4 linked regions of the Homo sapiens genome follow. Each later gene encodes a partner of the first gene's protein in a complex. Each region holds a gene or a part of one and is shown on either strand. Other genes may lie near its edges. The genes, in order: FBXL13, DRC7, DRC1 and DRC12.

Evidence for each region.
Region 2: FBXL13 (region 1) and DRC7 share a complex: the UniProt entries of both Homo sapiens proteins name them as parts of the nexin-dynein regulatory complex.
Region 3: FBXL13 (region 1) and DRC1 share a complex: the UniProt entries of both Homo sapiens proteins name them as parts of the nexin-dynein regulatory complex.
Region 4: FBXL13 (region 1) and DRC12 share a complex: the UniProt entries of both Homo sapiens proteins name them as parts of the nexin-dynein regulatory complex.

The regions. Positions count from the first base shown.
Region 1 is NC_000007.14:102,812,797-102,819,819, reverse strand, and holds part of FBXL13 (F-box and leucine-rich repeat protein 13), read left to right. Parts: intron 1-3,492; coding exon of another isoform or gene 3,493-3,634; exon of another isoform or gene 3,635-4,169; intron 4,170-4,180; coding exon of another isoform or gene 4,181-4,244; exon of another isoform or gene 4,245-5,403; coding exon of another isoform or gene 5,404-5,431; exon of another isoform or gene 5,432-6,288; coding exon 6,289-6,478; 3' UTR 6,479-7,023. UniProt on the Homo sapiens protein: Substrate-recognition component of the SCF (SKP1-CUL1-F-box protein)-type E3 ubiquitin ligase complex.
Region 2 is NC_000016.10:57,704,792-57,711,814, reverse strand, and holds part of DRC7 (dynein regulatory complex subunit 7), read right to left. Parts: intron 6,940-7,023; coding exon 6,781-6,939; intron 4,356-6,780; coding exon 4,137-4,355; intron 1-4,136. UniProt on the Homo sapiens protein: Component of the nexin-dynein regulatory complex (N-DRC) a key regulator of ciliary/flagellar motility which maintains the alignment and integrity of the distal axoneme and regulates microtubule sliding in motile axonemes.
Region 3 is NC_000002.12:26,446,905-26,453,927, reverse strand, and holds part of DRC1 (dynein regulatory complex protein 1), read right to left. Parts: intron 5,238-7,023; coding exon 5,125-5,237; intron 3,933-5,124; coding exon 3,843-3,932; intron 3,337-3,842; coding exon 3,247-3,336; intron 609-3,246; coding exon 379-608; intron 1-378. UniProt on the Homo sapiens protein: Component of the nexin-dynein regulatory complex (N-DRC) a key regulator of ciliary/flagellar motility which maintains the alignment and integrity of the distal axoneme and regulates microtubule sliding in motile axonemes.
Region 4 is NC_000011.10:119,192,821-119,200,610, reverse strand, and holds the start of DRC12 (dynein regulatory complex protein 12), read left to right. Parts: upstream 1-4,769; 5' UTR 4,770-4,812; intron 4,813-5,111; 5' UTR 5,112-5,123; coding exon 5,124-5,187; intron 5,188-5,616; coding exon 5,617-5,688; intron 5,689-6,725; coding exon 6,726-6,845; intron 6,846-7,367; coding exon 7,368-7,460; intron 7,461-7,790. UniProt on the Homo sapiens protein: Component of the nexin-dynein regulatory complex (N-DRC), a key regulator of ciliary/flagellar motility which maintains the alignment and integrity of the distal axoneme and regulates microtubule sliding in motile axonemes.

The sequences.
Region 1 (7,023 bases):
TGATGATCTCTAATCCCTTACCTATGCTCACTATCTAATCAGGGCCAGTGTGGCTCCCTCAACTGCAGAGGCTTTGATTTGTCTGGGTGAAACAGAACCTTTGGCAGGTGGGATAAGAGAGATTTTTCTGGCTTGGGAAGAAGCTCAATGTCTTTGAATCACAAAGCAATGCTCTCCACATGCTTGATTCCATTTTGAACATGAAAACAATGTATGATGCAGCCCTTAAGGTCCAATTACAGCCGTCAGAAGAGGCTGTTTTATACATAAATTCACTCATACTCAATGGAATCTGAAACTACTGCACCAGCTTTGCAAATCAAAGATGTCTGCTCAGCTCACCCTTTCTGAACCAGAGGAGTAGCAAACTTTTGGTCAATGAGCAAATTGGCTGTAGCCCTTTTGCAGGAGAGTTTCCTGCAGAAGATATGGCTGGCATTCTACCAACCCCAGAGTCTGAAGGGTTTCCAGGAAGTGACCCCAGAAGCACCGTGTGGATGCAAGATAAAGGCTCCTTTATTTCAAGGAGGAATAAGTAACAACTATGATCAGAAAACGACAAGCTATTTGTATTTGAAGCAGCTGTGACAGCCAGCCATTCAACTTATGGCCCTCTGTGGGGAAAGGCAACAAGGTAGGAGTGAGAGAGAGGAAGAAAGACCCTCACAATGGCCCCCACAACCCAGGAGGGCCTGAACCACAGAGAACCTGAAGAATCACTAATTGTATAGTTAGCGAAAAGGCTAATCCAAGAACAGAAAACCAAATAACGCATGTTCTCACTTATAAGTGGGAGCTAAATGATGACAACACATGGACAGATGGATGGGAACAACACACACTGGGGCCTGTCAGAGGGTGGAGGGTGGGAGGAGGGAGAGAATCAGGAAGAATAACTAATAGATACTGGGCTTAATACCTGGGTGATGGAATGATCTGTGCAGCAAAACACCATGGCACACGTTTACCTATGTCACAAACCTGTACATCTTGTACATGTACTCCTGAACCTAAAATAAAAGTTGGAAATAAATTTTTTAAAAAAATAAAGGGAACTTTTGATATATTTCTATCTGGAGCCCAAAACCTTCAATTCTAGAGAACTAGTAGAGAAAGTCTTAGTGGCCTTCAGAGCCCCAAATCACAGTATGAAATTCCTGGAAGGCCTTCTTTAGCAGTTGCTAGAAGCTTAAACTCGGACAGTCCCTACTGCTCAGGCATTCTAGGAGATCTGTGTTGATAAAAAATAAAACTCTTATCAGAGTTCTCCTCTCTAGCTCATGGAAAGGTTCAAGCCTTTCTGATGTGGAGCTGTTGACTTTTATTATCAGTATGAACAAATAATGTTATTTAACAATTATTATTTGCCACGTACTGTGCTAAATCCTATTTTACAGATATTGCCTCACAAATACACTTTATCATCAAAATGGATAAGGAAACTGGTTTAAACAGGTTAAATAATGTGCCCACAGCCACACAAATAAGGAGAGCCATACTTTGTACCTAGGTCTTAATCATACTGTGCTGCTCTTCGCCTTTATATTACATTCTCAAGCTTTTAAAAAGCTCTGACATTCAAGGGATGTGGTCAGTAAGGGTAGACACGTGCTCTGTTTTGCCTAATTTATGTCTGATGCACAATAAGAGAGGCTGTGGATTATGAGCAGTCCTTGGTGGTGGCTCCAACATTCCCTTTTTTTGCCTACTCAAGAGATTAGAAGGAAATGTGAGCTAAGGCACACAGTGTTACTACAGGGCTAACCCTGAATCCCTTTTAATTTATAAGAAACAAAAATCACTAACAAACTTCAGTACAGTGTTATTATTAACCATCTAATGTGAAATGTTACAACTATGACATATCATGTTTGAAAATCACTGTTCTATACTGATCCAAAGAAACCTCTCACCAGGATAAATGAGTAACCATTGCAGCAGATTGGTTCAATTCCCAAATCATTTCATACGGGGTCTCACAGTCACTTAGGCCAAAGCAGAATGGAATGCAGTCAAAGAATTCCATATGTGCTCTATGGAATTTAGAACACACAGTGGTTCCTAAGAATACATGTTTTTTTCAATATTTCCTAGCTCCCATGTGCTGATCACACTACAGCATCAAGCTATTAAGAGAGAAAGGGGAGGGGCAGGAGAGAGAGAGAGGTTTCTCCCAGAAATATAGTTTCTACATTTTTAACTTTCCTGATACGATTCAAAATACATGTGTAAGAGCTTCTGCACAGCAAAAGAAACTATCAACAGAGTAAAGATAATGGGAGAAAAATATTATCAAATTATGCATCCGACAAAGGTCTAATATCCAGAATCTAGAACTTAAACAAATCAACAAGCAAAAACCAAATAAGCCCATTAAAAAGTGGGCAAAAACATGAACGGACACCTCTCAAAAGAAGACATACAAGTGGCCAACAAAAATATGAAAAAATGCTCAACATCACTAATCATCAGAGAAATGCAAAATTACCATCACAATGAAGTATCATCTCGCACCAATCAGAATGGCTATTATTAAAAAGTCAAAAAATAAAAGATGCTGGTGAGGATGTGGAAAAAAGGGAATGCTTTTACACTGTGGTGGGAATGTAAATTAGGTCAGCCAAAATAGAAAGCAGTATAAAAACTTCTCAAAGAACTAAAATAGAATTACCATTTCATCCAGTAATCCCACTACTGGGTATCTACCCAAAGGAAAAGAAATAATTCTATCAAAAAGACACCTGCAGTTGTATGTTTATTGCAGCATCATTCACAATAGCAAAGTCATGGGATCAACCTAAGTGCCTGTCAGTGGTGGATTGGATAAAGAAAATGTGGTACATTCAGACCATGGGATGCTACACAGTCATAAAAAATAATGAAATCATGTCCTTTGCAGCAACATGGATGCGGCTGGAGGCCATTATCCTAAGTGAATTAACAGAGAAACAGAAAACCAAATACTGCATGTTCTCACTTAAAAGTAGGAGCTAACCACTTGGACATAAAGATGGAAACAATAAACACTGGGAACTCCAAATGTGGGGAGGCAGGGAGGATGGCGAGGGTTAACAAAGTACCTACTGGGCATTATGTTCACTATTTGGCTGATGGGTTCAATAGCAGCCCAAACCCCAGCATTATGTAATATACCCACATAACAAACCTGCACGTGTACACCCTGAATCTAAATTTTTTTTTAAAGGTGCGTGTGTGCAAACACACAGCTACATAGGATGCTATGATAAAGAACTCAGAAAAACCTTCTGGCAGCCACTTGCCGATCTCTTCTCTTGGCAAGGTCCTGGGTCTTAGGTTAGTCAGTCCGTGTGAGGATGCCAAAGGTGGTGAGGACAGCTAGTCACGGCTAAGGATTTTCTGAAGGGCAGGAAAGAAGTGGAATAGGGAATAGTCTATACTAGTATCCATAGCTCTCTAAAAATAATCCTAGATTTGCTCCAGGACAGATTCATATTTTCTGTTTTTCCCTAGGACCACCCTTGCTGTGAAAGCACTTCAGACTAAAACAGGCCCTAAAGACATACCAGGTGGAGGAAGCCTTAACCTCCCAGAACTTGAGTCTGGAAGGAGAGTGGGTCTGAGATCTGATCCTTTGCTCCCCTCCAGTCAGTAAGCATCACTTCCAATAGTCAGGGACCCACTGATGTTTGGTTTCACTAAAGCTGTCTGTGGGTGGACTGGAGAGCAGAGCTAGGGTAAGGGGGACAGGGACTAAGGAATGAGGACATTAAAGAAATGCATATACCAGTGGGCACTTCACCCATGGCTGGGGTTCAACATGCAGCTCATTTCGATTCTGTCCCATCACACTGCATTAAATGAGTAGTCTCCCTGTTCACTCACTGTTTTCCTTATCTTATATTAAGGAGTCAGCATTCTCACTTTCCTTTTTCTTGTTATTTTCTCAAACCCCCACTACTTGCTAATTGTTTTATGTCACAATTACCATCTAATTTACCCTGGCTTGTAGCTGACTGAGCAACCATAGGACTCAATATTTACACTTTCCCAGACTTATCATTAGTAGTACTTATCCTCTTACCAGTTATCTAGAGCCGTCAAAACTGTTGCTCTTCTGACATTAAGGTAAGATGTAACTTGGTGAATGAGGATTTGCAAATCTTTTACTCCCTAAAACAAGCATTTCCTTTTCCTATAGGTCAAGATCATTGTTGCCTCTAACTGTGCTACTCTTGTACTACAGTCAACATCAGTGGCATTGAATGATTATGAACAACTGTGAACTGCAGTGTGTGTCCAGAACTCTGGTGTTTGGGAGGCAGGGGGCAGGAGGGTGTTGGAAATAGGAACATAAGAATGCCCCTTCTAGACCAGCAATCCAGCAGAAGCCAAGAGGGTTAAAGGACTTCCCTTCTTGGTGTAAGCTGCTGAAATCTCTCGTTTGAGCTATTCATGATGAGTTTCAGGGAGATGCAAAGAAATGTAATAAACTCTTAAGTAACTTACTACCTTCTTAAACAAAAGGAAAATAACAAAGTTTAAAATTATAAATAATTAATGCCCTGAAGCTATGTAATAGAAAGAAATTAATTCTATGATCAACTTCCTGTAGATGTTTAGAGGAGGAGAAGACTGGGTTTGAGCCATTTCCAAGGAGGCTGGATTGGTTTGGAGTTTTGAAAAATGGATAATGTTTAGACTGATAGAGATGGGTGAAGGGTAATGATGGAGCCTTGCTGTTTGTTACATGAAACTGATGGTGCTAATGTTATATGCCTCAACATTTGGTATTATATTTCAGTAAGTCTTAAGGGGAAAAATGTTCAGAAAATGTGTTGAAAGATATGATAATCTCACCTTTATAGAATTGAAAAGGGAGAAATATCATTAGGAGAATAATGTGGGAAAAGCAAAAGATATAAACCCACTACTTTTGCATAGTAATGTTCTACTTTGAGGATATGTAAAGATTATATAAGAGGTTTAAAATGCAGGCTAGCACCTTAAAAAAAGATTTAAAAAATTAACAGAATGCAAAACATTATCTTTGACAATAAACTTACCATTTTCAAAACTGAGAATAAATATTTCTCTGAAGAGAATAAACTTGTTTGCCAAGTTTTAGTCCATAGGGATTGGTGGCTCCAAACTAGGAATTAGTATATGATAATTGCTTTTACTCAATTTGTTCTTTAAGTTTGTAGAAGTTTTGTGTGAGAGCCAATAATAAGCTAAAAAGCAATGTGCTTAGAGGCAGAATTAGGAATGCTTTGGTTACCTCCCTGTTAAGTTTGGTTACAATTATTTTAATACATCTAAAGTTTGATTTAACTGAAATAGCATTTTAAACTGTTATCTCTATGTTGTTGGTTTTTTTTCTTCCTATTTCATTGCCTTACCTGAACTCATATGGCCATTCAGCACAAACTTAACTCGAAGTGTATGGTAATGCCAGCTCCATATCAATGACTCAGTTTCCAGACTTTTGCAATTAATAACTCAAGGTAACATACGGCAAGAGTGGGGAAGGTAGTGCCTTCATGGGTAAACATCATAGTTACTCATTTCTAATCGTACAGAAGTGGTCAATTACTCATCTCCTCTTTAGTACTAATCTCGTGATTCAAACCAACTTTCTAGGAAAGGAAATTCTTCCTTCTGTCCTCAAAATGGCTTTGTTTTCAAGTTAGACCTACTTTTTTTCTGATGCATTCTTTACTTTCTTGTTTCCTGCTAAGAAAGACTATAACAGTATTTTTTAATACTGTGTTATAGTGTTGTGACACCTTTGAGTCACAAACCTTCTCATAAAAATGTGTATTATAGACAAAACTGCATGAACTTTCAGGGAGTTCATGGACCTCCCTGAAGTTCATCCATGTAGTCAAAAGGGATCTGTGAACTCTGGGTTAAGAGCTCCTGGCCTGGTGCATGGTCAGCCTTCACAGGTAGGCTGGTTAGGTTACTCCCTCATCAGAGAAACTAGAAATACCAAGGAAGGGGCTTACTTAAAGCAGTATAAATAAATAGAGGCCTCAGTGTTCCTCTTCCATGGCCATGTGTAGTTTCCTTACCCATTCACTGTATCTGTTAATTTCTGAACTGGCTGAATCAGAGTTACTGAGGCTTTGGGACCCTGTTTATTTGTACACTTACCCATATCCTCACTCTCAGCAAGGCAAGAGAGGTCTCATGTGAATTCAGATTGTGACAGTGAATTCCCTAACTCCAAATTTGGTTGAGTTTGAAAATTTTGCACTAGGGGTTACTTCTGCAACTAGCTAATGCTAAGCACTGTTATTACAGGAAGGCAGCTCAAAGAATGTCATCTAAAGTTCAGCAGCAGGAATACAACACTAATGACCCTCCACGTTGGTTTGGCTATGATAGGGAAGGAAACCCTGTTACAGAGCTTGACAACATAACATCATCTAAAGGAGCCTTAGAATTAACAGTGAAAAAGTCAACATACAGCAGTGAAGACCAAGCAGCGTGACCTTCAGCCTCAAGCAGGAAGAACAAAAAATCAAGAACTTGGCAAGTTTTCTCCATTTGTTGCAAGTATGTTTACTAGCTGAATCTCAATAACAATGTAAACAAGCAACAAACCATCTTCTGATTCTTATTCCAACTACAAATATTTCCAAACACATCAGTAGTTCTTCTGTCTAAATAATCATGATTTAAAAAAGAAGCCAGGCCAGGAGCGGTGGCTCACACCTGTAATCCTAGCACTTTGGTAGGCCAAGGCGGGTGGACCATAAGTCAGGAGTTCAAGACCAGCCTGGCCAACATGGTGAAACCCCATCTTTACTAAAAATACAAAAATTAGCCGGGTGTGGTGGTGGGCGCCTGTAATCCCAGCTACTCAGGAGGCTGAGGCAGGGGACTTGCTTGAACCTGAGAGGCGGAGGTTGCAGTGAGCCTAGATCACGTCACTGCATTCCAGCCTCGGCGACAGAGCAAGACTCCGTCTCAAAAAAAAAAAAAAAAAAAAGAAGCCAAATCAAGTACTGACTACACAAAATTTCTGCCTAAATT
Region 2 (7,023 bases), on another chromosome or scaffold:
TGATTTCATCTCTGACCAATCAGCACTCCTGGTTCCCTGGCATCCCCCAACCCACCAAGTTGTCCCTAAAAACTCTGCTCCCTGAATGCACGAATGCTCTGGGAGACTGATTTGAGTAATAACAAAACTCTGGTCTCCTACACAGCCTGCTCTGCGTGAATTACTCTTTCTCTATTGCAATTCCCCAGTCTTGAATCAGCTCTGTCTAGGCAGCTGGCAAGGTGAACCCCTTGGGTGGTTACAATCTGGGCACACTGCCTATGGGGTAGCCCTGCTCCACAAGGAGCAGTCCATCTGCTGCTGCCGTACGCTGCCACTTCAAGTAAAGTTGCCTCTAACACCACCAGCTTGCCCTTGAATTCTTTCCTGGAAAAAGCCACGAATCCTCACTGGCAAAGCCCTGATTTTGGGGCCTGCCCCTGCATCAAGAGCAACAAAATTGATAAACCTCTAACCAGATTGATCAGGAGCAAAAGAGAGAACACACAAACTACCAATATTAAGAATGAATGGGGTAATGTCACTAAAGACTTTAACATATTAGAAGGAAAATAAGGAGCTATTTTGAACACTTTCATAACAATAAATTTGAAAACAAATGAAATGGACAAATTTCTTGAAAGATACAAACACCAAACCTCACTCAAAAACAGCTTGAGTCTTCCTATTGAATTTGTACCTTAAAATCCTTCCACAAAGAAAATTCCAGCCCCAGATGGCTTCACTTGTGAAGTCCAGCAAACGTACAAAGGAAATCATGCCAATTCTACAGAAACTCATCCAGAAAACTGAAGAAAAGGGAAACTTCCCAACTCATTCCATGAGGCCAGCATTACTGTGATACCAAAACCTGGCAAATATATTCTAAGAAAACTACAGAACAATATCTCTCTTCAACAAAGATACAGAAATTCTAAGCAAAATTTTCAGTTCAACACCAATAATATATAAAAGATTTAACCATCACAATGAAATGAGGTTTATCCCAGGAAAACCATGGTTAGTCTAACATTCAAAATCAATCCAAGTAACTTACCATGTAGATAAACTAAAAAAGAAAAATCATAATAATCTCAATAGACTCAGAAAAAGTATTTGACAAAAATCTAGCATCTATTTCTGAAAAAACTCTCAGCAAACTAGGACTGGAGAAAAACTTCCTTTATTTGATAATGGGAACCAATAAGAGAAACCTGTGGCTAATACTATACTTAATGGTATCAGACTAAATGCTCTCCGTAAGATCAGGAATAAACAGGTTTGCTTTCATCACTTCTGTTTAACATTTACTGATGATTCCAGCCAGTGTGATAAGGGAAGAAAAGCATCCAGATGGGAAAAGAAGTAAAACTGTTTTTATTCACAGATAACATAATTATCTGTATAAACATTGATGGAATCCACGCAAAGGCTATTAGGGCAAATAAGTGAATTTGGGAAGATTTCAGGATAGAAGATCAATATGTAAAAATCAACTGCATTTCTATTCACTAACAAAGAATAGTCAGAAGGTGAAATTTAAAAAAATCATAGCATCAAAAAGCGAAATATTTAGGAATAAATCTGACAAAAGATGTGCAAGAACTGTACACTGAAACCTACAAAATGTTGCTGATAGAAATTTTAAAAGACTTAAATAACTGAAGAGAGATACCATGGTTCATGGGTGAAAAATTCAATATTGTTAAGAAAACGGTTCTCTCTCAATTGATCTATGGATCCAGTATAATCTCAACCACAATCTTCTTTTTGGGGCCCGGGACAGTGGTTCAAGCCTGTAATCCCAGCACTTTTGGAGGCCAAGGTGGGTGGCTTGCTTGAGACCAACCTGGGCAACATTGCAAAACCCATTTTTTGTCTCTATAAAAAATACAAAAATTAGCTGGGCATAGTGGCACATGCCTGCAGTCTGTAGTCCCAGCTACTCGGGAGGCTGAGGTGGAAGAATTGCTTGAGTCCAGAGGTTGCAGTGAGCCGTGATTGCATCACTGCACTCCAGCCTGGTCAACAAAGGAAGACCCTGTCTCAAAAATAAAAATCTTCTTTTGGGGTGATGAAAAAATTCTGGAATTAGATAGTGGTGATAGTTGCACAATCTTGTAAATATACTAAAAGCCACTAACTTGTGCACTTTAGTGGATTTATGTTATGTCAATTACACCTCAATTTTAAAAAGGGGGGAACACAATCAGTCTAATTTACCACTTAATAGAAGAAAAAATTATGATCATTTAATAGATGAAAAAAACATTTGATATAAACAAATTTTGTTTGATTAAAAAAAAACCTGCTAGTGAACTGAGAAAGAAATCCCTTAGTTAAATAAAGGGTAGCTAGCTATAAAAACCCTACAGTCAAGATAAACATCACACAAATAGTGAAATGTTATGATACTAAGGCGTTACTTGTGAATCAGGACTGAGACAAGGATGTTCAGAATCCCCACTTCAATTTGACATTATACTGGATGTACTAACCAGAGAAATAAAACAAGAAAAAGAAATGAAAAAGTATAAGGATTAAAAATGAAGAAACAAAACGGCCATCATTCAGCTATAGAACTGATTGTATATGCAGAAAACCCCAAAGTCTTTACAGATTAATTTTTAAAATGAATAAGCAGGTTTAAAACTTACTGGATATGTGAACAGTTTGCAAAAAGCAATTGCTTTTTTTTTTTTTTTTTGAGACAGAGTCTTGCTTTGTCGCCCAGGCTGGAGTGCAGTGACGCAATATAGGCTCACTACAACCTCCGCCTCCCAGATTCAAGCAATTCTTCTGCCTCAGCCTCCCAAGTAGCTGGGATTACAGGTGCCCACCACCACACTTGGCTATTTTTTGTATTTTTAGTAGAGACGGGGTTTCACCATGTTGGCCAGGCTGGTCTTGAATTCCTGACTTCAAATGATCCACCCTCCTCAGCCTCCCAAAGTGCTGGGATTACAGGTGTGAGCCCCCACACTCAGCCAAAAATCAATTGCATTAAATAAAACCACAGTGCAATACCATTACATGTCCACTACAATAGCTAAAATGGAAAAGAAAGTATCCAGTATTGGCAAGGATGTGGATGGAGCTCTGAGAACCCTCATACATTGCTGGTGGGAGTGTAAATGGATGCAATCACTTGAGAAATCGGGCAGTATCTACTAAAACTGAGTATGTGCCCACCCTGTGACTCAGCGATTCCACCCCTCAGTAGTTACCCAACAGAAATGTGTGTATGTGTTCACTGAAATATATGTATACAAATATTCATGGCGGCATTATTCAAAATAGTCCCAAACTGGACACAGTCTCAATGTGCAACTGTAGAAAGGACAAATAAGTTCTGGTGTATTCAAATAATGGAAAGTAATAAAAAATGAAAATGAACAAACCACACAAAAAACCACAATGAATTTCATAAACATAATGAGTGAAGGAATCCAAGAGTAAGAGTATTGAATCACTGTGTGATTCAACTGATGTAAACTCCAAAAACAGATGAAACTAATGGATGTCGTTAGAAGTCAAGATAGTGCTTAACTCTGGGGACGATGGTAGGGTTGGTGGCCAGGAGGAGACATGAGGGGGCTTCTAATGGTCCTGGCTACACAGGTGTGTTCAGTGTGTGATAATTCAATGGTATGTACACTTAGGATTGTGACCTCCTCTGTACCCTCTTGTAGGCGCGTGTGTGTACCAGTGCCACATACGTGAGTTAAAAATACATTTGGAGGAAGATAGTAATTGTGCAAAGGGACTTTGTGGGGTTTGGGCAATATTCTATTTCTTGGTCTGGGTGTAGGAAACCAAGGTGTGTTAAATTTGTGGGATTTCACTGAACTGTATGTATGCATGGGATGAGTGTACTTTTCTGCATGTAGGTTACACTTCAATATAGAGTTTTTAAAAAATGCATTCAAACAATCCACACTTTAGAAGGATACACAAATCAGGAGAGACAATAATCGTATCAGAATGGTTATTCATGGGCAAGGGAGTGGGCCATGGAGACGCAGCTATGGAGAAGGTTCAAAGCCCTCGTGGCCTGGTGTCTCGCTCTCCCCAAGGTCTGGCTGCCATTGCTTCCCTCTATTCCTATCACCTGCACTGTGCCTGCCACACCCACCCAGCTCCCCCTCCCTAGGCACCTTGCAGCAGTTCCAGCAATCCTGCATGTTGATCCAGTAGTTCTTGTGGTTCCACAGGCTTTCGATGCCCAGGAAGTGCTCATCCTGGGTGCTGTAGCTATGTCCTGTGAATGGGTCGATGAAGAAGTTCTCAGGCACCTCGCGCTTCCCCGATAGCACAAGGACCCAGGAGTGCACCCGCAGGCCGTGCAGGGCATCCGGCTTTGCCTTCTCCGCTTCCTGCCAAGGAAAGGTGGGTGACTACGAGTCAGATGGCTGGAAGAGGAGTGTCAGGGGCCCAGACATCTCCCTGGGGCTGGGGAACCAGCAGGAGAGCTGAGTTCTGATGTAGACTGCACCATCAACCGGAGTGTGACGGCCCATCTCCCCTCCCATCACCCAACCACTGAGCCCATTTGTAAAATCAAAACAATGGGAGAGTCTGACTAGATCTGTGGTTTACAAATCGGACTCTTTGGGGCACTGGGCATCTGGGGGTTACCGGCTTTATATGTTATGACTTTGGGTGAGGTTTCATCCACAGAAAGGAAATGGGAGACCAAGTACCTTTCTTATCTGCCTCCCTCTGAGAGAACTGTGACTGTCTTGTTGTTCATTGTTATGTATAAATAGGTCTGGACCAGAAAAGAAGCTCAAGGAATACTCTATGGAAGGAAAGGAAAGAAGGGAGTGGGGAAAGAGGATTGGAGGAAGGATAGGAGTGTGGAGTTGGAAGAAGAGATGGGAGATGGGTAGGAGGATGGCTGGCAGGATGGATGAGAGGACTGATGGCAGGAAAAATGGATAGGAGGATGCATGGGAGGAGAGAGGGGAGGATGGATGGATGGGAGGATGGGTGGATGGGAGGATGGATGGATGGGAGGATGGGTGGATGGGAGGATGGATGGATGGGAGGATGAGTGAGACAATGGATGGATGGGAGAACAGTGGGTAGGAGGGTGGATGGATGGGAGGATGGACGGATGGGAGGATGGGTTGGAGGAGAAATGGAAGGAAGGATGGATGGATCGGAGGATGGTGAGAGGATGGATGGGAGAATGGATGGGAGGATGGACGGATGGGGGGGTGGGTGGGAGGATGGACGGATGGGAGGATGGGTGGATGGGAGGATGGATGGATGGGAGGATGGGAGGATGGGTGGATGGGTGGATGGGAGGGTGGGAGGATGGATGGATGGAAGCATGGATGAGAGGACGGATGGATGGGAGGATGGATGGATGGGAGGAGAAATGGGAGGATGGATGGATGGGAGGATGAGTGGGACAATGGATGGATGGGAGAACAGTGGGTAGGAGGGTGGATGGATGGGAGGATGGACAGATGGGAGGATGGGTTGGAGGAGAAATGGAAGGAAGGATGGCTGGATCAGAGGATGGTGGGAGGATGGATGGGAGAATGGATGGGAGGATGGATAGTTGGGAGGATGGACGGATGGGAGGGTGGGTGGGAGGATGGATGGATGGGAGGATGGGTGGATGGGAGGATAGATGGATGAGAGGATGGGAGGATGGGTGGATGGGAAGATGGGTGGATGGGAAGATGGGAGAATGGATGGATGGAAGCATGGATGAGAGGATGGATGGATGGGAGGATGGATGGATGGGAGGCAAAATGGGAGGATGGATGGATGGGAGGATGGGTGGATGGGAGGATGGATGGATGGGAGGATGGTGGGAGGATGGATGGATGGGAGGATGGTGGGAGGATGGATGGATGGAAGGATGGATGGGAGGATGGATGGATGAGAGGATGGATGGGAGAATGGATGGATGGATGGGAGGATGAGTGGGATGATGGATGGATGGGAGAATAAGTGGGTAGGAGGGTGGATAGATGGGAGGATGGATGGATGGGAGGATGGATGGGAGGAGAAATGGGAGGATGGATGGATGGGAGGATGGATGGATGGGAGGATGGATGGGAGGAGAGATCAGAGGGTGGATGGGAGGATGGATGGATGGGAGGATGATGGATGGGAGGATAAATGGGAGGATGGATGGATGGATGGGAAGATGGATGGATGGGAGGATGGGTGGGAGGATGGATGGATGGAAGGATGGATGGGAGGAGAGATGGGAGAATGGATGGTTGGGAGGATGGATGGATGGGAGGTGGGTGGGAGGACAGATGGATGGGAGGATGGGTGGATGGGAGGATGGATGGATGGAAGGTTGGGTAGGAGGATGGATGGATGGGAGATGGACAGATGGGAGGATGAATGGGAGGAGAGATCAGAGGATGGATGGGAGGATGGATGGATGGATGGATTGGCGAATGGGAGGATGGATGGGAGGGGAGATGGGAGGATGGATGGGAGGAGAGATGGGAGGATGAATGGATGGGAGGGTGTATGCAGGTATATCCCCAGTAAGAGTCTAGAGCAAAGAGGACACCAGAGCTGCCTAGCATAGAATGGGCTGCCCCAGGCAGTACAGTGCCCTGATGTTAGGAGTCCATCATGAGAAGCTGGCTGACCACCAGTGGGAGATTCCTGCAGGGCCAGGTAGAGGTTGGGGGTGATTGTGAGGTGGACCTAGTTGGGGGGTCCATACACACATCCCCTCCATGACCTATGCCTCTTTTCCCATCCCTAGCAGTCCTTTCTCGATAGCTGAGCCCAGGGGATTCAGGGCTGAGGACCCACCATGAGGCGCTCCTCCTCCTCCCTCAGCCGCTTCTTCTCCTGGGCTCTGATCTCCTGCTGCTTCTTCACCTCTTGCTCCTGCTCAAACCTGCTGCACAGGTCCCTGGGGGGTTTGATGGTATACTTCTTAGGCAGCACCTTTTCCTCCTTCTTGATGGTCTGTCACCCAAAAGAAGAGGAAGGGTCAGTGGCCCTGCATCCCCCCTTTACATGTGCAACTCCAAGAGGTGAGACCCGCCCAGC
Region 3 (7,023 bases), on another chromosome or scaffold:
GCCATTTCCTCCCAAAACCCTCTGACATGCCAAATGGAAACGGCCACTTCCTCCTCTGAACAATGGTGCACCTTGAATGTGCTTTGACCATTACTCTGATCACAAGGCAGTGCCCCCACAGTGCTTACACATGGCAGCCTTCAGTGCATGTCTGCTGAATGAATGATGAGTGAAAAAAGCACAGATCACCACTATGCCCTATTGCTTTCCTGACTGTCCAGCGATTGGTTGCCCCAGCCCGCCTTCAGATAGCCCTGTCCTTAGTCCCCGCATCTTGCCCAGCAGACTCTTCTCCACTCACTGGCTCTGCCTGGCTCCCCAGCCCATCCAGCTCCCCTGGTTCTGGTCTCAGGCAAGCCTTCCAGCCCCGCAGCCCACCTAGGCTTCTTCAGACCCATGACGAAGGCCTCCAGAATCTTGAGGACATCATTGGGGTGGATGACCCAGGGGGAGGGTGGGGTCTCCTCCTCTTCCTCCTTCTCCCCTTCCACCAGGCTTTCTTCCTTTTCTCCCTCCATCTCCGTCTGCTCTGCCAGCTCCAATTCTGACCTCGTGCTTGTCTCCTCCATGCTCGCCTTCTCCATGCTCGCCTGACTGCAGGGCTTGATCTGGAGAAAGATGCACGGACAACTGTGGGCTGGGGACACACGAGCATGAGCATGGAGAGAGAGGCAGGAAGAAGAAAAACCAGAAAAGTTTACAGAAAGTGACAGCTTGCCCAGGGAGACATTTACACAGGGACAGAAACAGGAGAAAGAGTGGGAAGAAGGGGGATGGGATGGGGAGAGGCACTAGGAGGCTACGAGAAAATGGAAAGGTTCTGTTTCTAAATCCGGGCTCCTAGGTGCTCACCTTACTGACATTCATAAAGCTTACATGTTAGAAATCTTCTTTTGAATCATAATACAGATTAAATTTTTGCTTTAATTGTTAAATTTAAAAGGTCTTCCTCCTACTCCTATTTTGCAGTTCATGCAATTGACCTCCCACAGGCAAACGAATGCTATCAAGTTTCCTATGGTTCCTTCCAAGGAAATAGTATGTCTATATAATGTTTATATATAAATACATGCGCATACCTTTCCATATATACTCCTCCTTCTCGTTTTGACATCAATGATACTATACTACAAATAGAGTTCTGTAGTTTGCTTTTACACTTACCAATAAACCTTAGGTACCTTTTCATGTGAATACATAAAGAACTTTGGTTTTTTCCCACAGTTTTATAGTACCCCATCGTGTAGACATACCATATATTATTAAATAGATTCCTCAACAATGGACATATAGGTTGTTTCGAATCTTCTGCCATTTCAAACAATGTACAGTGAATCAGCTACAATAAATACACCATTTCAACTGTAATGAGATATATTTAGAGAATAAAATCCTAGAAGAAGAATTTCAGAGGCCAAGGTGGGCAGATCATTTGAGGTCAGGAGTTCGAGAGCAGCCTGGCCAACATGGTGAAACCACATCTCTACTAAAAATACAAAAATTAGCCGGGCGTGGTGGCAGGTGCCTGTAATCAATCCCAGCTACTCAGGAGGCTGAGGCAGGAGAATGGCTTGAACCTGGGAGATGGAGGTTGTAGTGAGCCGAGATCGTGCCACTGCACTCCAGCCTGGGCAACAGAGTGAGACTCTGTCTCAAAAAAAAGAAGAAGAATTTCAGAGTAAAATGTATATAGTTTTGTAATTGATACTGCCAAACTGTCCTCAATGGAGGTTACAATTTATACTCCTACCAGTAACTTATGAGTGTGCCTGTTTTCTACACCTCAGTCATCGCTATGTTATACTTGCTGTGTTATCAAGCTTTTTTTTTTTTTGCGCCAACATAACAGGTTGGCAAAATGGAAATCAGCCATTTTAATTTGCATTTCTCTTATTACAAGGAAGGCTGATTGTCTTTTCATATGTTTAAGAGTTACCTGTATTGCCTCTTCTAGGAGTTGTTCATTCATATTTGTTATCTGTTCCTTTTGTTGGTCTTTTTCTTATTGATTTCAGAGAGCTCTTTATATATTAAGGAAATGCCTTAACTATGATATGAGTTGAAAATATTTCTCTGCAGCTTGTCATTCATCTCTTAACTTTGCTTATCATGATTTTTGCACTACAGAATTGTTTTTAAATTCTGTAGTCAAATATAGCTTTTATTCCCTTTATGGCTTTGTGGTTTTGTCCATTTCTGCCAGCTCTTTTTTTCTTTTCTCTTTTTTTTCCCTTAGAGACAGTGTCTCACACTCTGTCACCCAGGCTGAAATGCAGTGGTGAAATCATGGCTCACTGCAGCCTCAACCTCATCATGGCTCACTGCAGCCTCAACCTTCTGGGCTAAACTGAGCCTCCCAAGTAGCTGGAACTATAGGCATGAGCCACTGTGCCTAGCCCAGCCAACTCTTTTTACAGGCATGTCAGGATACTCAGCTTTGGGCTAGCAGTACTAAAAACATTTTTCATTCACATTTTTCATTTTTAAATTAAAATGTTATATGACTTTTAATATGGCATCTTCTTTAAAATAGTTAATATTTGATTCACCTTCTGAAATCAATTACAATCAAGATATGTAGGACAAATGGGCCTTGCCTTGCGGGAAAGTGTTAAGGATCAAAATATTCAGAACCTGGTGGGCTCTGGTCTCACAGTGGCTGAGACCTGGTTTTGAGGGAGGGTGCAGGAAAAGATTGCTTGGGCCTCAGTATAAGAACAGCATCTCACCCCCAAGCCATTCTTCCCTTTACAAAGAGACAAATTGATAAACAATAAGGGAAATGCTAAGTTAGCTATACCTGACATAAAAGCCCCGCTATTTCTCCAGAAGTGCTACTCAAAGACAGCACTGTGCTCTGGGGGCTTCGGGACAATTGAAAATGCAGGGACATGGATGAAGCTGGAAACCATCATTCCCAGCAAACGATCACAAGATCAGAAAACCAAACACCGCATGTTCTCACTCATAAATGGGAGTTGAACAATGAGAACACATGGACACAGGGAGGGAAACATAACACACCGGGGCCTGTCGGGGGGTGGGGGCTAGGGGAGGGATAACATTAGGAGAAATACCTAATGTAGGTGATGGGTTGATGGGTGCAGCAAACCACCAGAGCACATGTATACCTATGTAACAAACCTGCATGTTCTGCACATGTAACCCAGAACTTAAAGTATAATAAAATAAATAAATAAATAAGAAAGAAAGAAAATGCTTTCTTCTCTCTGCACCTTGCCTTACCTGGAGGCTGGAAGATAAACGGTGAGCTCGATATTTAAGGAAGAAGTTCACCAGTTTATACAAGTCATCCTCACTTTCAATTCCAAGGGCCTGGGGCGAAAAACAGGATGGTTGCTCAAACACCCCATCAAGAGGCCACGGGCTTGGGCAGCTGACAGATGCTCAGCTCCTAAGAGCGGGAGGCTTGGCTTGTGGAGGGCATTCATCCAACGCTGGGAAGCGACTGTGAACTTGGGGACACACACATCAGAACACACGGAAACAATGCTCATAGAGCCAGGAGCTGCTCCATATGGATCCCATGGCTGTGAGGATGCCTAGTGGGGCTGCACCAGATTTGAGTTTGGGGGTGTCAGGGAGAACCTACAACCTGAGAGGAAGATGCTAGTAGAGGAAGAGGCAGGGGTGGGAGACACTGCAGTGAGTCTGAGACCAATGTGTTGTGTGGAGAGTAGGTTAAGGGAAGGATGTGACAGGGAGCAGGGGAAGCCCCGGGAGACCCTCGTCCACTGCCAGGGTTGAGGCAATGGCAGGGCCATCTGAGAACACGGCCGGCTGCAGCCCCACCCGTGTCCTCCCAGCCCCGTTGGACTCACGGAGAAGATGGCATCCAGCCTCAGCAGATAGCATTCATTCTGCTCCAGGGGCAGGAGAAGGCTCAGCAGCTTGCTCTCTATGAGGAACCCCTGGGGAGAAGGAAGAAGGCATCTCCTGTCGGGGACAGGTTTCAGGAGCGAGTCCCAGGGTCTGCAGCTGCCCCCTGTGTAACACTCCAGGGACCATGCCACGGAGCAGACGCCCAGGGATGGGAGCCAGCAGTGGGCCCCAGCAAAGCCTTCTTGGGGTGCCCATGAACGCCCCCCTCCCCAGGGAGCAAGGCCAGAGACAAGCAAGGCCAGGGACAAAGCCCATCCTCACCACAGACTTAGCTTTTCCCACCCAGAAGGGCACCAACCCACCTCACCCACAAGCCACTAGGCAAACTCCTGAGGCCCCCACCACAGTCCAAAGCTGACCCAGTCACAGGCTCCTGCTTCACCCATAGTCTTGTCCCCAAATATCTACAGAACACAGCAGCAGGACAGGGAGGCATGGAAAGCAGTGGGCACCCCAAACCAAAACACAGCACACATGCGGTGGAAGGGAGAGGGCGGCTGAGCAGATGCGGTGCCCGCTCTGAGCTGGGATGCCTGGGGGAGAGCTCCATGGGGAGGTGGCCTCTGCATCCAGCTGCAGGTTCAGAGGGCAGAACCTGCCACCTGACCCCTTCAGCAGCAGCTGCCCTCAGTGGCAAGAGCCAGCCAAAGGCAACTGCCCTCACTATCCTAAAAGAATACCCACTTCAGAACCGTAAGATCCAAACAAACACTGCCCATGTTTGACCACAACCCAACCTCCAGCTGAACCAGCTCAATGCAGCTTTTATTCTAAGGCTAATCATGTTTGCTAACATACAATGCAGACATCCAAATCCCAACATAGCCAGAGTCACCCCCAAAACAAGCCCCTGAGAAGGGCCATGTCAGTGTGGCCACATCACTTAGCAAGTTGGTTCATGGAGGTGAGCTGGTGCAACTTCTGTCTCAGAAGCAGCATCATTTTAAGCTGGCAGGAGCCCTCCAGCTGGCCTAAACTATGCCATGCTGGCCAACCAAGGTTAGACCCATTTTCCAGCTGGGCCAGCTCAGAGGCAAGGCCTCTATGAACCGGCCCTGAAGTCCAGGGGCCATCCTGACTCTGCTCCTCAGGGCCCAACCCTGGGCTTGGCCAGGGGAGGACTGGCCCACTCCTGACTCCAGGCTAGCACTGGCCCAGCAGAGGCCTCAGAACCTGCACACCCCCGTGAGTCCCTCTGCTGCAGCCCCCGCCTGGCCTCACCGACTCGTCACACAGGAGCATCAGGATCCTCTTGGTAGTTTTTTCAGAAATTTGCTTCGGCAAATCCAGGTAGGACTCTGGTTCCGCGGCGGCCTCTTCTGCCTCCTCCTCTTCTGCAGTTGGGTCATGGGGAGGAGAGAGAAAGAAAAAGAAGATAATTTCTGGAGCTAGTTGACTCTGAGAAACAGTCAGATGGCTTTCCTTGAGAAAATGTACCTCTTAAAAAGCCTCTGTGAGGCATTCTCTCAGTCTCTTTATGATGAAAAAAGCCTATTACGTGGCGGGAAGGCGGGCTAGGGGGTCGGAATCAGAGACTACCTGGAGAACTCGGCCATTCCCAGCCAGCCTGTAATGCCCTACTTTTCCAAATTGCGTCTACCTGGAAACATCATACTCAAAATCCAGCCATGAACCAGGAAGTGGGAGGGAGAGTGTGAGCCCATTTATTCTTATTTCAGAGATGATCTAGCAAGTGGCTATATAGTCTCTAAACCTGCAACAGATTAGACAGAAGCAGCCAACTCAAAGCAGGGGCAGGTGGCTTTGCACATTCACAGATAATTTTTTTTTTTTTTTTTTGAGATGGAGTCTTGCTCTGTCACCCAGGCTGGAGTGCAGTGGTGTGATCTCAGCTCACTGCAACCTCCGCCTCCTGGGTTCAAGTGATTCTCCTCCCTCAGCCTCCCAAGTAGCTGGGATTACAGACACCCACCGCGACACCTGGCTAATTTCTGTGTTTTTCGTAGAGATGGGGTTTTGCCACATTGGCCAGGCTGGTCTCGAACTCCTGAACTCAAGTGATCTGCCTGCCTCGGCCTCCCAAAGTGCTGAGATTACAGGCATGAGCCACGGCGCCTGGTCCAGAGAAATATTAACAGCAAGAACTGACAGCTGACAGCAAGAGCCAAAAATTTTCTTAATTAAAATTAACTTCTTAGGCCAGGCGTGGTGGCTCATGCCTGTAATCCCAGCACTTTGGGAGGCTGAGGCAGGTGGATCACTTGAGGTCAGGAGTTTGAGACCAGCCTGGCCAACATGGCAAAACCCCGTCTCTACTAAAAATACAAAAATTAGCTGGGCATGGTGGCACGCACCTGTAATCCCAGCTACTCAGGAGGCTGAGGCAGGAGAATCGCTTGAACCCAGGAGGTGGAGGTTGCAGTGAGCCAAGACTGCACCACTGCACTCCAGCCTGGGCAACAGAGTGAGACTGTCTCAAAAAGACAAAAATAAAACAAACGAACAAAAAACATAATTAAATTGTAAAAAACCATTCCCTAATAATCAAAAGCAAAACGAAACAAAAATACCTATATGTGTATCAAGCTGGTGATATAACCACACAGAAACTATTCCAAGTGCATTTATTTTTATTTATTTGTTTATTTATTGAGACAGAGTCTCGCTCTGTCACCCAGGCTGCAGTGCAGTGGCATAATCTCGGCTGACTGCAACCTCCACCTCCCGGGTTCAAGTGATTCTCCTGCCTCAGCCTCCTGAGTAGCTGGAATTACAGCCGCGCGCCACCATGCCCGGCTAATTTTTGTATTTTTAGTAGAGACAGGGTTTCACCATGTTGGTCAGGCTGGTCTCAAACTCCTGACCTCATGATCCGCCCATCTTGGCCTCCCAAAGTGCTGGGATGACAGGCATGAGCCACCGCACCCGGCCTATTTTTATTTTTTTTTTAATTTTTATTATTTTTTATTTTTTTGAGAAAGAGGCTCACTCTGTTGCTCATCCTGGAGTGCAGTGGTGCAATCTTGGCTCACTACAACCTCCACCTCCCGGGTTCAAGCGATTCTCCTGCCTCAGCCTCCTGAGTAGCTGGGATTACAGGCGCACGCCATGACCGGCTAATTTTTTGTATTTTTAGTAGAGACAGGTTTTCGCCATGTT
Region 4 (7,790 bases), on another chromosome or scaffold:
CGTCTGTAGTCCCACCATGCTGAGGTGGGAGGATCACCTGAGCCAAGGAGATTGAGGCTGCAGTAAGCCGAGATCGCGCCACTGCACTCCAGCCTGGGCCACAGAGCGAGACTCTGTCTCAAAAAGAAAAAAAAGAAAGAAAGAAAAACCTCCCAAACAGGCTTCTAGATGAGGAGGACAGGGACAGGTACCCCCACTGCATTACAGCACAGGAGAAGGAGGTGGTGGAGGGAGAATAAATGAAAAACATGCTCAAGATTAGAAGAAGCTGGTCTGATGGTACTGGGTTATCAGAACTTATTAACATTAGTGTCATGTCAAAGAAAAGAGTCAAACTCTGTAAAATATTTGAAGAGATTTATTCTGAGCCAAATATGAGTGACCAATGGCCCGTGACACAACTCTCAAGACATCCTGAGAACAAGTGCCGAAGGTGAACAAGCTACAATTTGGCTTTATACATTTTTTTTTCAGACGGAATTTCACTCTTGTTGCCCAGGCTGGAGTGCAATGGCGCGATCTCGGCTCACTGCAACCTCCGCCTCCCGGGTTCAAGAGATTCTACTGCCTCAGCCTTCCAAGTAGCTGGGATTATGGGCGCCCACCACAATGCTTGGCTAATTTTTTGCATTTTTAGTAGAGACAGGGTTTCACCATGTTGGCTAGGCTGGTCTTGAACTCCTGACCTCAGGTGATCCACCTGCCTTGGCCTCCCAAAGTGCTGGGATGACAGGCGTGAGCCACTGCACCGGCTTGCTTTATATATAAATTTTAAGAAAACATAAGACATCAATCAATATATGTAAGATGTACATTGGTTCAGTCTAGAAAGGCAGGACAACTGGAAGCGAAGAAGCGGGCAAGAGAATTAGGGTTAGAGTTAGGGTTCCAGGTCATACGTGGATTCAAAGATTTTCCAATTGACAATTGCTTGAAAGAGTTATTATCTAAAGACCTGGAATCAATAGAAAGGAATGTCTGGGTTACAATAAGGGGTTGCAGAGACCAAGGGTTTTTTGTTTTTGTTTTTGTTTTTTTGACAGAGTTTTGCTCTTGTTGCCCAGGCTGGAGTGCAGTGGCGCAATCTCGGCTCACCACAACCTCCACCTCCCGGGTTCAAGCGATTCTCCTGCCTCAGCCTCCAAAGTAGCTGGGATTACAGGCACCCGCCTCCACACCCGGCTAATTTTTTGTATTTTTAGTAGAGACAGGGTTTCGCCACGTTGGGCAGGCTGGTCTCAAACTCCTGACCTCAGGTGAATCCACCTGCCTTGGCCTCCCAAAGTGTTGGGATTACAGGAGTGAGCCACCGTGCCCGGCAAGAGACCAAGGTTTTATCATGTAGATGAAGCGTCCAGGTAGCAGGCCTCAGAGAGAATTGATTGTAAATGTTTTTTCTTCTTATCTTTTCTCTTTTTATTTTTTGAGACAGGGTGCCACTGCATTTCCCAGACTGGAGTGCAGTCACGTGATCATGGCTCACTGCAACCTCAACCTTCCCAGGCTCAGGTGATCCTCCCACCTCCGCCTCCCAAGTAGCTGGGACTACATATGCACACCACCAAACTGGGCTAACTTTTGTATTTTTTGTGTAGATGGGGTTTCACCACATTGCCCAGGCTGGTCTCAACCTTCTGGCCTCAAATGATCTGCCCGCCTCAGCCTCCCAAAGTGCTGAAATTACAGGCATGAGCCACCAGGCCTGTAAATGTTTCTTATCAGATTTAAAGAGTGTGTTCTATCAGTAATTCTAAAAGGGAGGAGGGTATGTTGAGGCATGTCCGGCTCCCCCTTCCCATCACGGCCTGAACTAGTTCTTCAGGTTCACTTTGGAAAGCCCTTGGCCTAGAGGAGGGGTCCACTCAGATGGCTGGCAGGCTTAGAATTTTATTTTTGGTTTATAGTCACTAAAGTTGGTATACAGGCGCCCACTACTAAATTCCACTGGCTTCAAAAATAAATAAATAAAAGATTAGAAGAAAAATATCCTCCAGATTTGGGAGATGTCCACAAGATTAGTTGACTCTGAGTTACAGGAGCTGGAAGCACTTGGGAAGTCAAGACTGGCTCTTCTCTTTGCTCTGTAAAATGCCCGGAAGTTCATGTAAGTGCCGTGCAGCCACCAAGGTGACAAGCATGAACCAGCCTCTGCCTAAAGTTACCCACTACCCAGAAGAAGGACTTTTCAATTCCAGATCTTGTGGCTTTTTTTTTTTTTTTTGAGATGGAGTCTTGCTCTGCTGCCCAGGCTGAAGTGCAGTGGCGCAATCTCTGTTTACTGCAACCTCCTCCTCCTGGGTTCAAGCGATTCTGCTGCCTCAGCCTCCCCAGTAGCTGGGATTATAGGCACGTGCCACCATGCCCAGCTAATTTTTGTATTTTTTAGTAGAGACAGGGTTTAATAATGTTGGCCAGGCTGGTCTCGAACTCCTGACCTCATGATCTGCCTGCCTCAGCCTCCCAAAGTGCTGGGATTACAGACGTGAGTCACCGCGCCCAGCCTCTTGTGGCTATTTCTACAGATCTGCTCCTGACAATAGGCAATGGACCAAAAATATTGAGGGTGACAGAGATGAAGAGAAGTACCTAAAGAAGGCCGGGCACAGTGGCTCGCGCCTGTAATCCCAGCACTTTGGGAGGCTAAGGCGGGTGGATCACGAGGTCAGGAGTTCAAGACCAGCCTGGCCAAGATGGTGAACCCCCATCTCTACTAAAAATACAAAAATTAGCCAGGCGTGGTGGTGGGCACCTGTATTCCCAGCTACTTGGGAGGCTGAGGCAGAGAATTGCTTGAACCTGGGAGGTGGAGGTTGCAGTGAGCCGAGATCACGTCACTGTACTCCAGCCTGGGCAACAAGAGCGAGACTCTGTCTGAAGAAAAAAAAAAAAAAAGATAGGCTGGTGCAGTGGCTCACGCCTGTAATCCAAGAACCTTGGGAGGCCAAGGCAGGTGGATCGCTTGAGGCCAGGAGTTTGAGACCATGCTGGACAACATGGTAAAACCCCATCTCTACAAAAAATACAAAAATTGGCCAGGTGTGGTGGCATGCGCCTGTAGTCCCAGCTACTCAGGAAGTTGAGGTGGGAAGATCACCAGAGCCCAGGGAGACTGAGGCTGTAGTGAGCCGTGATCATGCCACCGCACTCCAGCCTAGGTGACAGAGAGAGACACGGGAAAAAAAAAAAGAAACCTAAAGAAAAGAAAGGGTCTGCAGGTCCCCTAATCCAAAAGGAGAAAAGTCCTGAAGTTTTTGCTATTTTCACTCTAACCAGTATGGTGCCCAGAGATCCAAGTGGCAGATAAATGGCAAGCCTCCAGGATAGCACAGAGCTGGAGGGAAAGTGAGGGCTGCCTGACAAGGGAGGGCCACCCATCATACTCTCTCCCCAATGTTAATTCTTCCAGCCACTCCTGGCTCAAACAGGACGCTAAGAAGTATCCCCAAAGGGAGTCACCCCCACTGTTGCCCAGTAAATAATTTAAAAGCAAAAATGTAGGAAACTCAGGAGAAGGTCAAACAAGTCCACTAGAGGGAGCCCCAACCAACTCTATGCTACAGGGAGCCTCACAAAGCAATGTCTCAACACCTGTCTGAAAATCAACCACACAAGGGAATGGGGAAATGTAGCAATAGATTAAGTCACTAGGAGAGAAGATAGCCATGTAAACACGCAGCTAAAACACAGGCTTTTCAAGAGCTGCAAAATCAAACAATTAAAGATCAGGAAACTGATGCTGAGCAAAGTCAAATGGCTCGCCTCAGTTTACATATCCACAGTTGGGACTCAAACTCACATGTCTTGTCTCTAACCTGAGCTCTTTCCTCCACACTTGCATCCCTCTAGGTCAGTACCCTAGAGTCCATGGGTCCACTATTCCTCTGCGTCTCATTTCTCTGAAGTGGGAAACTCCCTGGACTACCTATTCCTGCACTTATTACCCTCATTCTACAGTGTACTGAAGAGGATCTTCGGTGGTCTGGGAGTTTTGTTTGTTTGAGACAGGGTCTCCCTCTGTCATCCAGGCTGGAGTGCAGTGGTGCAATCATAGCTCACTGCTGCCTCAACCTCCCAGGCTCAAGTGATTCTCCTGCTTCAGCCTCCCAAGTAGCTGAGACTACAGGTGTGCACCACCACACCAGGCTAATTTTTTAATTTTTTTGTAGAAATGAGGTCTCACTGTGTTGTCCAGGCTGGTCTCGAACTCCTGGCCTCAAGTAATCCTCCTGCCTCAGCTTCTCAAAATGCTGGGATTATAGGCACGAGCCACCGCCCCAGCTTAGATCTTCAGTTTTAAGCCTACTAATGTCATTTTGCTGGTGGGACCTCGGGATGTCAGTTGTCCAACATGGCTACTGTCAGTCCTTTTCCTCTGTATCAGCACCACATATTATCTCAGATGTGTACATCTGAATTTGGAAGTCTCCAAATTGCAGGCCATGTCTACATGGCAATGAATCATAACTAATCGACCTCCAAAGCCCTTTCTTTTCAAACTATACTTAGGATTTTGGGATAAGGAAAGAACTGACCCTTTGAGACCTTGATATTTTAAACTTTGTGAGCTGATTTAGCCCATTCCACCTTCCTGTGAACTCCATGTTTCCCAGTTGCCTGGACAACATACAGCCTCTGGAAACCCAACCTTCCAGCCCTCAGTCCTGCCCTCAAGAGAAATTTGCCACCAAGGATTGGCTCCCAGGACCCAGGCCCCGCCTCAGGCTCCTCGCTAGTTGGGCCTTCTCTCTGCCACTCCCCACGAGTGGGTCACTCCACGGGGAGCCCCAACGCTGGCAGGAGAGGATCCTACAGGTAGGAAGTGAGGGTTGAGGATGATGGGAAGAGGGAGGGGAGCAGGTACAGGGATTTCGTTTCTCTAAAAGAGAGTTGCAAGGAATGACTTCTGTACAGAGTCAGCCTGGTTGAGAGAAAAAACTCCATCCTCCCCACTGACCCCAACCCTGTCTGAGGTTCCAAAGAGACTGTGAACTGACTTTTCTGAAGGATATGAGAGACAAATTTGGACTCAGGAGAGTCTCCTGGTTCAGTCTAAAGCTCAGGAAAGCATCCCTGTGTCCAGACCTAAACATAAGGTCCCCTCCTTCTCCCAGGACAGCAAGGAGATGCCACCTAAAAACAAAGAAAAAGGGAAGAAATCTGGGGCACAGAAGAAGAAAAAGAACTGGGGTGAGTCATGGTGGGTGGAGGTGCCCCCTGCTTCTCCATGTTCTGCCATGAAGACCACGCAGAGCTCCTCCAGAGAGAATTCAGCCTTCTGCAGGACAGGATGGAGCTCTCTTGACCTACCTCTTTCATGTCCTCACAGCCAGATCCAGGGAGCTGAGGAAGTGGGGAAATGGTCACCCACGCTCTCCTTTAAGCCCCATCTAGCTCTGTGCCTTCCTAATATATTTGTCATGTGTATTTTGCATATCTGTTATGTGCTGGTCGGTGAGGACACGGTGCTGACTTCAGTAGACTCTGCCACTGTGGATACCTCATTTAGTGGTCCTCAGGTCTGCTGTGGCAAAAGTGCAGGGTGTGGGGTGAGGATGTGAGCAGAGTGAGGAATGCTGAGATCATGAAGAGCTGAGGCTCTGCCACTTGCCACCGCAGGTGCAGATGTGGTGGCCGAGTCCAGGCACAGGCTGGTGGTGCTGGAGAAGGAGCTGCTCCGAGACCACTTGGGTAAGGAGGGTAGAAGCTGGCATGGGTGGGCAACAGGGGAAGTGAAATGGGGCATTTCTGTATCCTGGGGGATTGGAGAGTTGGAGGTATGGTGGGGGGTTAAGTTGACCCTAACCATCCCCTAGTGGAAAAAGATGATGAGAGAGGGTGGGCAGTGAGAGTTGATAAAGGAAGGTGTTTTTTTTGTTTGTTTGTTTTTTGTTTTTTTTGGTTTTTTTGACAGAATTTTGCTCTATTGCCCGGGCTGGAGTGCAGTGGTATGGTCATAGTCCACTGTAATCTCTAACTCCTGGGCCGCAACAATCTTCCCGCCTCAGCCTCCCGAGTAGCTGGTATTACAGGTGCACACCACCATGCCTGGCTACTTTATTTATTTATTTTTTTTTTTTTTTTTTTTTTTTTTTTTTGAGACAGAGTCTTGTGCTCTGTCGCCCAGGCTGGAGTGCAGTGGTGTGATCTCGGCTCACTGCAACCTCTGCCTCCCAGGTTCAAGCGATTCTCCTGCCTCAGCCTCCCGAGTAGCTGGGATTACAGGCACGTGGCCACCACACCTGGCTAATTTTTGTATTCTTAGTAGAGACGGGTTTTCACCATGTTGGCCAGGCTGGTCTCGAACTCTTGACCTTGTGTCCCACCAGCCTTGGCCTCCCGAAGTGCTGGGATTACAGGCGTGAGCCACCGCGCCTGGCCCTATTTATTTTATAGAGACAAGGTCTCACTCTGTTGCCCAGGCAGGTCTCAAACTCCTGGCCTCAAGCAATTCTCCCACCTAAGCCTCCCAAAATATTGGGATTACAGGCATGAGCCACCATGCCAGGCTATCCGAAAAGAACATAGAGGGAGTTTTTACTTCTTAATAATGAGGAGCCTGTGAGACTCTAGGGATAAAAAACAAAAACAACAAAACCCAGAGAGAGAGTAAGAGGCTGGACACCCCACCACCAGATTTCTAGAGGTGGGCAAAGTCCATCACGTTCATGGGGGCTGATTTAGTGGGACCCAGCCAGTCCTGACGGCGGCTCTGGGACTGCTCACAGCTCTACGGAGGGATGAAGCCCGTCGAGCCAAGGCTTCCGAAGACCAGCTGAGGCAGAGGCTGCAAGGGGTGGAGGCTGAGCTGGAAGGGGCCCGAAGTGAAGGGAAGGCCATATATGCAGGTGTGTGGTCGGTTAAGCAGGTGGGCAGGAGACAGGGGCTTGGAGGAGGACAACCAACAGGGTCAGTTGATGCAAGGAAGGGAAACAAGGAGGGCTTCCGACTGCCAGGCCTGGTCTTGGTCTTTCCCAAACAGTACAAATCAGGAAGGATCCTGCAGGAACCAAAGGCAGGTAGGTTCCTGGGATCCCAGGCAGGGGCCTTCCAGGATGCCTGGTGCCATGTGCTTGATGCTGTGTAGGATACACATGCAGTCATAGCCATCATCTCAATCAGCCCATGGGCGGGGAGAAGGGCTAGCATCCCCATCCAAAGCTGGACTGGGGGAGGTAGGTCGGGCTTCCTGTCCCTTCCTCAGGTTTTCATGGTCTGCAGCTTCTCAGAATCACAAAAAGAACCAAGAAGGCCTTTGTGCTCCTGTTCCACTAGACCAAGTAGAGTCTTCCCCACCCACAACTTCATTTCCTTTCTCCATCCCTCCATCTCCAACCTGGGTCCCTGGTGGCCCACTGCCCCCACCCCAGAGATGAGTCGCCAGTGCCATGCCCTGCAGGAGGATATGCAAACCCGCAGCAAGCAGCTGGAGGAAGAAGTCAAAGGCCTTCGGGGGCAGCTAGGTAGGTTTCCCCACCCTCCAAGCCCCTTCTCTCCAAGAGTTGCAGCAAGGGCCAGCATGAAGGGGTAGACTTCAAAGTCTCTGCTCCAGAAAGCTGCCGTCTGGGCTCTTGGATCACTTTCCCCACTTTCGCTGACCCTCCACCACTGAGGACTGCAGCAGAGGGTTCGGGATACCAAAAATCTCTGCTGTAAGTAAAGAAGAGGCTCCAGGCGCGGTGGCTCAGGCCTGTAATCCCAGCACTTTGGGAGGCCAAGGCGGGCGGATCACCTGAGGTCAGGAGTCCAGGAACAGCCTGGCCAAATGGCAAAACCCCGTCTCTACTAAAAAT